Homo sapiens: one gene and its partner. The protein of the gene in region 2 interacts with the protein of the main gene of each other region in a pairwise test. Each region holds a gene or a part of one and is shown on either strand. Other genes may lie near its edges.

Evidence for each region.
Region 1: the proteins of TMEM237 (region 2) and CBLIF interact in binary tests that used the Homo sapiens proteins (3 or more experiments, as listed by UniProt).

What each region holds. Positions count from the first base shown.
Region 1 is NC_000011.10:59,842,700-59,846,894, forward strand, and holds the start of CBLIF (cobalamin binding intrinsic factor precursor), read right to left. Parts: upstream 2,801-4,195; 5' UTR 2,755-2,800; coding exon 2,676-2,754; intron 1,357-2,675; coding exon 1,180-1,356; intron 443-1,179; coding exon 329-442; intron 1-328. UniProt on the Homo sapiens protein: Promotes absorption of the essential vitamin cobalamin (Cbl) in the ileum. After interaction with CUBN, the CBLIF-cobalamin complex is internalized via receptor-mediated endocytosis.
Region 2 is NC_000002.12:201,637,004-201,640,503, forward strand, and holds part of TMEM237 (transmembrane protein 237), read right to left. Parts: intron 3,263-3,500; coding exon 3,258-3,262; intron 2,043-3,257; coding exon 1,986-2,042; intron 1-1,985. UniProt on the Homo sapiens protein: Component of the transition zone in primary cilia. Required for ciliogenesis.

The sequences.
Region 1 (4,195 bases), on a different chromosome or scaffold from region 2:
AGAGACACAGCATAGGCAAAGAGCAACTTCAGTGTTTTTCAAAAGAATGTCATCAGGCATCTGCAAAGAATAAAAGGGATGACTCTGTGTCTTTAGACAGGTGATGGCTGGACAAGCTTGTGTCCTTGGGATCATGACCTTTTCTAGTTCATTTTGGATTGGAAATGAATCTTTCTGGTCTGGATTATCAGAAGGACCAGAGTGAAGGATACATTGTCTCTTCCCTAACTTGCCTTTCTCTCCACCCCCACCCTTTTCCTTTCTGGGTTTAAAATTCTTAGGTAAAACCATATGCCTGACTCTTTTCTCCCTTCCAGTCAGGTCTTACTGGAAGGTGCCCAGTTCTCCATTTGTCTTTGTAGAATGGATACTTTATCCCCAGGGTCTCGGCAGGAGGAGGTGAGGGCCATGATGGTGAGGCCGAGCTGCCCAATGGTTAGATCTGCAGAGAAGAGAACACAACGGTTAGACAGAGACATCCTCAGGGGACAGCTCTCCAGGAGCCAGTGATGAGTTCTCTGCTTTTTATCTAGAGCATTTTGACTTTTTAATAATATGAGCAGTTCTTTGATCTGTCTTTCCAAAGAAAAAAATATGGAAGAATACGTAAGGGAATATTTAATCTAGTGGCCTCTGTGTAACTTGATGACTCTAGTATTTGGTATTTGAGAATCCCTGGTATTTGATTAGAAAAGCAGCAAAATACTCATATAGATTTATATACAGAAATTTACAGTTGCAAAATAATTTAAACTTTATCTAACTTGAGCCTGCAGGCAGCTCCTGGGAGATAGGCAGAACAGAGATTTTATTATTATTATCATTGCTATTAGTAGTAGTAGGGTTATTGTTACTACAATCATCTGCAAGGTGAGGCTGAGCAGTATCCAGTGACTTGTCTCAGATCCCAGAGTTATGACGTGGCAGAGCCAGAACCAGAAGGCTGCTCTTTCGACGTCTAGTCCAGAGCTCTCCCTGCTTTACTGACCTCCTCCATGAATGCTCTGACTTCACACATGTTTCTTTCCAGGTACCTTCCAGGTATGTAAGGAAAGGTGTTTGGGTAGTTTATTTACAGTCAGAGGCAGCATTGGGGTGGGAAGGACGCTGAGTTGGAATCTGGAGGTGGTATGTGATGTGTGAGATTCAGGGAGAGTGCGAGCGGCTCAGATGTCTCACCGTTGTTGTCGCTGGACATGAGCTGGTAAGTCAGGAGCTTCTGGGCCTTCAAGTTGTAGGCTCCGGCCAGATTCATGGCAATCAGGATGCTGGGGTTTGGGTAGGCTGATGAAGTCACCGAGTTCTCCATGAGTACTTGTATTCCATTGACCAAGGGCTCCTGTGCTGAGGGAACGGCTGAGAAGAGGAAAGCCATTTACTCACCTTCTAACCCTCATTCCTTCTCAAAAACATTATCCCCGTGTCTTTGATGCTTTTTCTTTCTTTCTTTTTTTTTTGAGACAGTGTTACTCTTGTTGCCCAGGCTAGAGTGCAATGGCACGATCTCGGCTCACTGCAAACTCTGCCTCCCAGGTTCAAGTGATTCTCCTGCCTCAGCTTCCTGAGTAGCTGGGATTACAGGTGTGCACCACCACGCCAGGCTAATTTTTGTATTTTTAGTAGAGATGGGGTTTCACCATGTTGGCCAGGGTAGTCTCGAATTTCTGACCTCAGGTAATCCACCCTTCTTGGCCTCCCAAAGTGCTGGGATTACAGGCGTGAGCCACCTCGCCTGGCCATCTTTGATGCCTTTTAGGAGAACACTTGATTAGCATTAGTGTCCTAAGTCACTAAAGAGAAATGGAGAAAATGGTGAGATTTTACTTTTGAGGACAATTAGTTTCTACATCTTCTCAAATAATCCATATCCTTAAGAAAGTGATTTTTAAATTTAGTAACTTCAAGCAATATGGCTCATGACATTTCTCATAGTTTCTATCACTTTCCTGGAAATCACTGATTTCCTTGCATTCATTTTTTTCCTTACTCTTTCATGAAGAGTATTAAAGATTTGGGATATAATTTATCCTCAGTGAGTACCAAAATCTCTCACTAGTATGTAGTGGTGTCTGGTCACAATAGCCACTGAGTGTCTGTCTTTGTACCATCAACCATTATTCCTGCAGTAGTACTTCCATCTCTATTATTTTTATTTATTGATTTTTTGAGACAGGGTGCTGCTGTGTCATCTAGGCTGGAGTGCAGTGGTGTGATTATAGCTCACTGCAGCCTCGACCTCCTGGGCTCAAGCGATTCTCCTACCTCAGCTTTCTGAGTAGCTGGGACCACAGGTGCATGCCACTGCGCCCAGCTAATTTTTTATTTTTATTTATTTATTTTTTTTGTAGAGATGGAGTCTCACCATGTTGCCCAGGCTGGTCTTGAACTCTTGGGCTCAAGCAATCCTCCTGCTTCAGTCTCCCAAAGTGCTGGGATTACAGGTGTGAGCCACTGCACCTGGCCCCATCTCTCTTAATAAAAAACATATAGACTTGTCTCTCAAAGAACTTATGCTATTAAGTCAGGAAGGATGAACAGCACACAATCACACTCAGACTTACCCATTTTGGAATTCCTATAGTGATTGCTATTTTCAACCACTCAGTGTCAGAGGTCACAGCCCCTTCCCCAGGGCAACTGCTTCCCTGACCTCCTTGGAAAAACATCATACTCACAGCATGAACTCTGGGTCTGGGTACTAGTCCCAGCTGTAGCCCAGAGAAGGCTCAGGAGGTAGAGGGCAAACCAGGCCATCTCACTCTCTCGTCTATGTCTCTCATCCACAGGTACCGCGATTTGCAAGTGGAATATTTCTTTACCTTCTCTTATATGTGCTTCCCTTTGTTAAATAATCTGTCCCCAACCCAGCCTCTCCTAACTGCCCCTGTGCTGACCTCTCCTTTCCTGATACAAGTAAGTAAATTTTCATTTGCTTATCTAAGTTTACCGACTATAGACCCTCCAAGGTGTCTGAAGGTGACTTCTAGGTTGCACAGTCATATGAGAAACCTGGGGCTGGGTATGCAGTGAAGGCAATGTTGAGAAAATGTCCTTTACCAAAGGCCTGGGTCAGACATCAGGAAGTTTGGATAATGTGCTAGTATCAACAAGACCTCTTCTAGCCCTTATTGTATCCAATCAGTTACCAGGCTGCTTTTTAGTAACTACTTCACTGGGATTTAGGCCATTCATAGGCATCAGCTCATTTTATGATCCTAGACACCTGCTTTACAACATGTCCTTTTAGGCTCTCAGGCAGGGATCTGCCAGGTGACATCTGGCTTTGTGAAATTAATGATGTCTACCTGGACCTGGATTCTAGCCTAGACTCTTTGAAGTTGTTTGACTTTAGGCAAGAAATGGACCTCGGTTTCCCAGAAATGGTTTTGTTTGATTTCTCTTTCCTTATCTGGAGATAAAAGCCATCTCAAACACCCAAAGCTTTCAGATATTATCTTTTAAAGTAAGTAATTAGAAAATGTGAGATCCATTAAGAATACATATTTCAGATGTGTAGCTACATTATAATGCAAATTATACTTCTTTATAAGGGAGAACTGAAAATGGTATGTTGAAATTATAAAGAAAGGAGTTTTGTTTGTTTTTTTCCTGCATGTAAAGTAGCTCATTTTAAGGGGATATTCTCCAGTGGCGCCCATCTTAGCATAAAAGTCAAAGCCCTTTTCATGACCTATAAGACCTTAGAAGATCTGGCTCCTGGTTTCCTTTCTGACCTCAGCTCCAGGCGTTTTCCCCTTTGCTCACACCGCTCCCATCACACAGAACTTCTTGTGCCCCTTGAACACATCAGCTACCTTTGCACATGATGTCCCCCTCAGCCCAGGACCCTCTTCTTTTAAATAGCCTCATGGTGGCTTCCTCACATCCTTCATGTCTCTGCTCAGAGGTAAGCTTTTAGAGACGCCTTCCCAGGCCACCCTACATAAGATCCTACATCCTCACCTCCACTGACACCCCTCATGCCCCTCGCCTGCTATAACTCATTGCCCTCTGTCGCACTAAGTGTGTGGTTGTTTATCGTTTGTTTATCTCCCTACTAGAATGTCTGCTCCACGAGGGAGGGGCTTTGTCTCTTTGGCTCACTGCTCTATCCTTAGCCCTTACAACACTACCTAGCTCACAGTAGAAATAAAATACTTTTTGAATGAGTGAATTAATGAGCAAATGTAAGACA
Region 2 (3,500 bases):
AACTAATTATCCCCCAAATCTTTCCTTCCTCCTCACCTGTAACTTTGGGCTTTAAGTTAGGAAAAGAAATAAATGAAGGAATAAGAAAGGCTGAGGAAGAAAAAACGAGGGGGCTAAAAAGAAGAGCAAAAGACAGGAGGAGGAGAAATTGCTTCAGAACATTTAGAACTTTGAAAAAGGTGGAAAACATAATAAAAACTGATACCATAGAGAATTCTCTTACTTGCCTCTTGCCTTAAGAATTTTCATCAGCCTCTATATAGTAAAGTCCTTCATTAATAAGTTAAAGAATAATAAAGTCATCATGGATAATTGGAGTTAGCAGGTAATTTATAAGTCTCTTCATTTGGTCATTCACTTCAACTTCTTCCCTCATGAAATCTTTTAAAAGAATTTTAACACATACCTGACTGCATTCCCTTCCTTGCTTGTCTTCTTCACAAAAGAAATAGAAATTGCACTGGGTGCAGTGGCTCATGCCTGGAATCCCAGCACTTTGGGAGGCCAAAGCAGGCGGATCACATGAGGTCAAGAGTTCGAAACCAGCCTGACCAACATGGCAAAACTCCCTCTCTACTAAAAATACAAAAATTAGCCGGGTGTAGTGGCATGCGCCTGTAGTCCCAGCTACTCAAGGAGGCCGAGGCAGGAGAATCGCTTGAACCCAGGAGGTGGAGGTTGCAGGGAGCCAAGATCACACCATTGCACTCCAGCCTGGGCAACAGAGCAAGACTCCGTCTCAAAAAAAAAAAAAAAAAATAGAAATGTATCAATAAACAAATGAAAATGTTTAACCTCAGTAGTACATAGAGAAATGTAAACTAAAATAAGCTACTTTTCCCCCACTAAATTAACAAAAAAATTTTAAAGATTGATTATTGTCCAATGTTGTTAAGGATTTAGAGAATGAGACACTCTCAGACTCTACAGGTAGCAAGATAATAACTAAAGCTTCCTTAAGGTAATTTAGCAGAGTCAGTCATACTAATAATGCACACATCCTGCACCTAGCAATTCCACTGCTAGCAATCCATCCTACAGAAGTACTTCTTCCCTACCACCCACTATTTTATGCAGAACTGCAACATTGTTGGAGTGAAAAATTGGAAATAACCTAAATAAATAACAGAGCAGTGATTATGGTACATTCTTATCATGTAATACAATGAAGTCACTGTTTAAGAATACATAGAACTCTATGTATTAAGAAACAAAGATAGTATGTATGATTCCTTTTATGTTTTTGTTGTTGTTTGTTTGTTTTAAAAAAGGAGCAGCAACCACAGAAACCTTTTAGGAGTGTGAGAGGTCTCAAGTAAAGAGTGAAGTTAAAGGATCAGGTAAAGATAATCTTGAGGTTTCAGGCCTGAGGGCTGGGAAAATGGTAGGTTCCATTAACAGAAAATCATGAGACGTAAAAAAATTATTTATTCTTAAAGGCAACGATGGATTCTAGATGTGCTGAGTTTAGAGTTACGGATGCAACTTCCAGGATTATCAGTGGATGACTAAGACAAAAACGAGTTCTGCTCATGACTGAAGCTTTACTATTTAAATGATGATGTGGCCATGCCTTCAGACTCATGCTGTAATGTAGAGATATTCTGATTGAAGTGAGATTTAAGAACTCTGTGTTTCTAAATTCAGTATCTTGTTCAAGGGTCTGGAATCAATCATAGCTTAAAACCATGTATGTTGTCTGGGGATAAAAGACCTTAAAGAGTCCAGGAATATCATGGAAATAGGAGCTTAGATGGCACCACCTTCTATTCCATGAATGCGTCCAGATACTCCTCAGGCTGCCCACTGCCCTGTACCTCACCACCACCAGGAATTCCACTGCTTCAAACTGGCCTTAATTCTATCCTCAATGAAGTGGAGATTCGGGGCTGCTGGGGCCTTAATTCTCCCTTATCTGTGATGTTTACTACGCCTGAGGTCCTGGGAAAACTTGTGATCCCACACAACAAAGAATAACGTCTTACCTGGTGTGTTTTTTGTTCTGGGCTTCTTTTTCTTAGGACGACTAAGTGGAATATCATCTATAAAGCAAGAAAAAACGTCAACAGAAAAGGGTGCCTAAAATTCAATGCAGAGAACAGTCAGAAGAGAACTTTTAAACAGGGAAGAATTCTCCCTCTCTTCCCTGGGCCTGGCAAACGTTTATAGATTAGGGGAAGAAGGCAAGAAATTGAGAAGATCAGAGAGAGCCCACAGTGTGGTACCAGTAGCACACTGCATGTCAGTAATGTTAGAAACCATGACACAGAAAGTGGGTTCAACAAATATTCATCTGATCCCCTATATTTCCCAGCCTCCTTGCACATAGGTGTAGTCTATGACTGGTTCTGGCCTATAGGCTGTGAGCAGAAGTGATCTGTGTCATTTCAGAGCCAAACGTTGAAAGAGCCAGTGAGTAATCTTCCAGCTTTCTCTTCCCTTGTTGTGGTGACTGAGGAAGCCTCATGTTAAGATGGTGGGACCACAGCACAGAAGTAGCCTAGATTGCAGACCAGGCGCAGTGGCTCACACCTGTAATCCCAACACTTTGGGAGGCCAAGACAGGCAGATCACTTGAGCTCAGGAGTTCGACACCAGCCTGGCCAACATGGCAAAACCCTGTCTCTACTGAAAATACAAAAAGTAGCTGGGCATGGTGGCACACGCCTGTAATCCCAACTACTCAGGAGGCTGAGGCAGGAGAATGACTTGAACCCAGGAGGCAGAGATTGCAGTGAGCCGAGATCACACCACTGCACTCCAGCCTGGGCAACAGAGTGAGACTCTGTCTCAAAACAAAAGAAAAAAAAAAGTAGCCTAGATTGCTATATCAATAGTAAAAAGGTAGTGAAAGGTAATGGTCCCCCATTTTTGCCATAGCAGACTTTGTATTAATTAGAAATAACCCTGTGTGACACTAAGTCACTGAGATTTGGGGGTTTTAGTATAGTATAACCTTGTCTACCCTGACTAAATGAGACAAAGGAAGGTGCAGTCCTCATTATAGAGCTACAAATTAGCCAACAGTTATGTGCTGGGTGACCCCATTCAGGGATGAAGTGCTTTTATAATGGAAAGGTCATCTAGTGCTATGTATCAATGACAATTTTTAAATGGTAGTCATGGGAGATTATTTCACAAAAACATATTGTAGAATTACAAATTACACCATTCAGACTCAGTTTTAAGAGAAACAAACCAAGGAATCAAACTAATTTTTGAACACCAAATATTATATTTACATTAAACTAACTCACCTTGACTAACACGTCATATAACACCAAACAAATTTAATCAGCAGGACAAAGACAAAAAAGAAACAATTAATTAGAAACCTGTTAATATTCACAGTGAAAATTGACTTAAATCATTACAAATTTAAAATAAAATTAGCTTTCACATAATAGCTAGTTTACAAACTAGTTTACTGTTTATAATTAAGTGGTTTAATAACACTGCTAATAAAATAATGTCAATATTTTCTGAACCTACATATACAT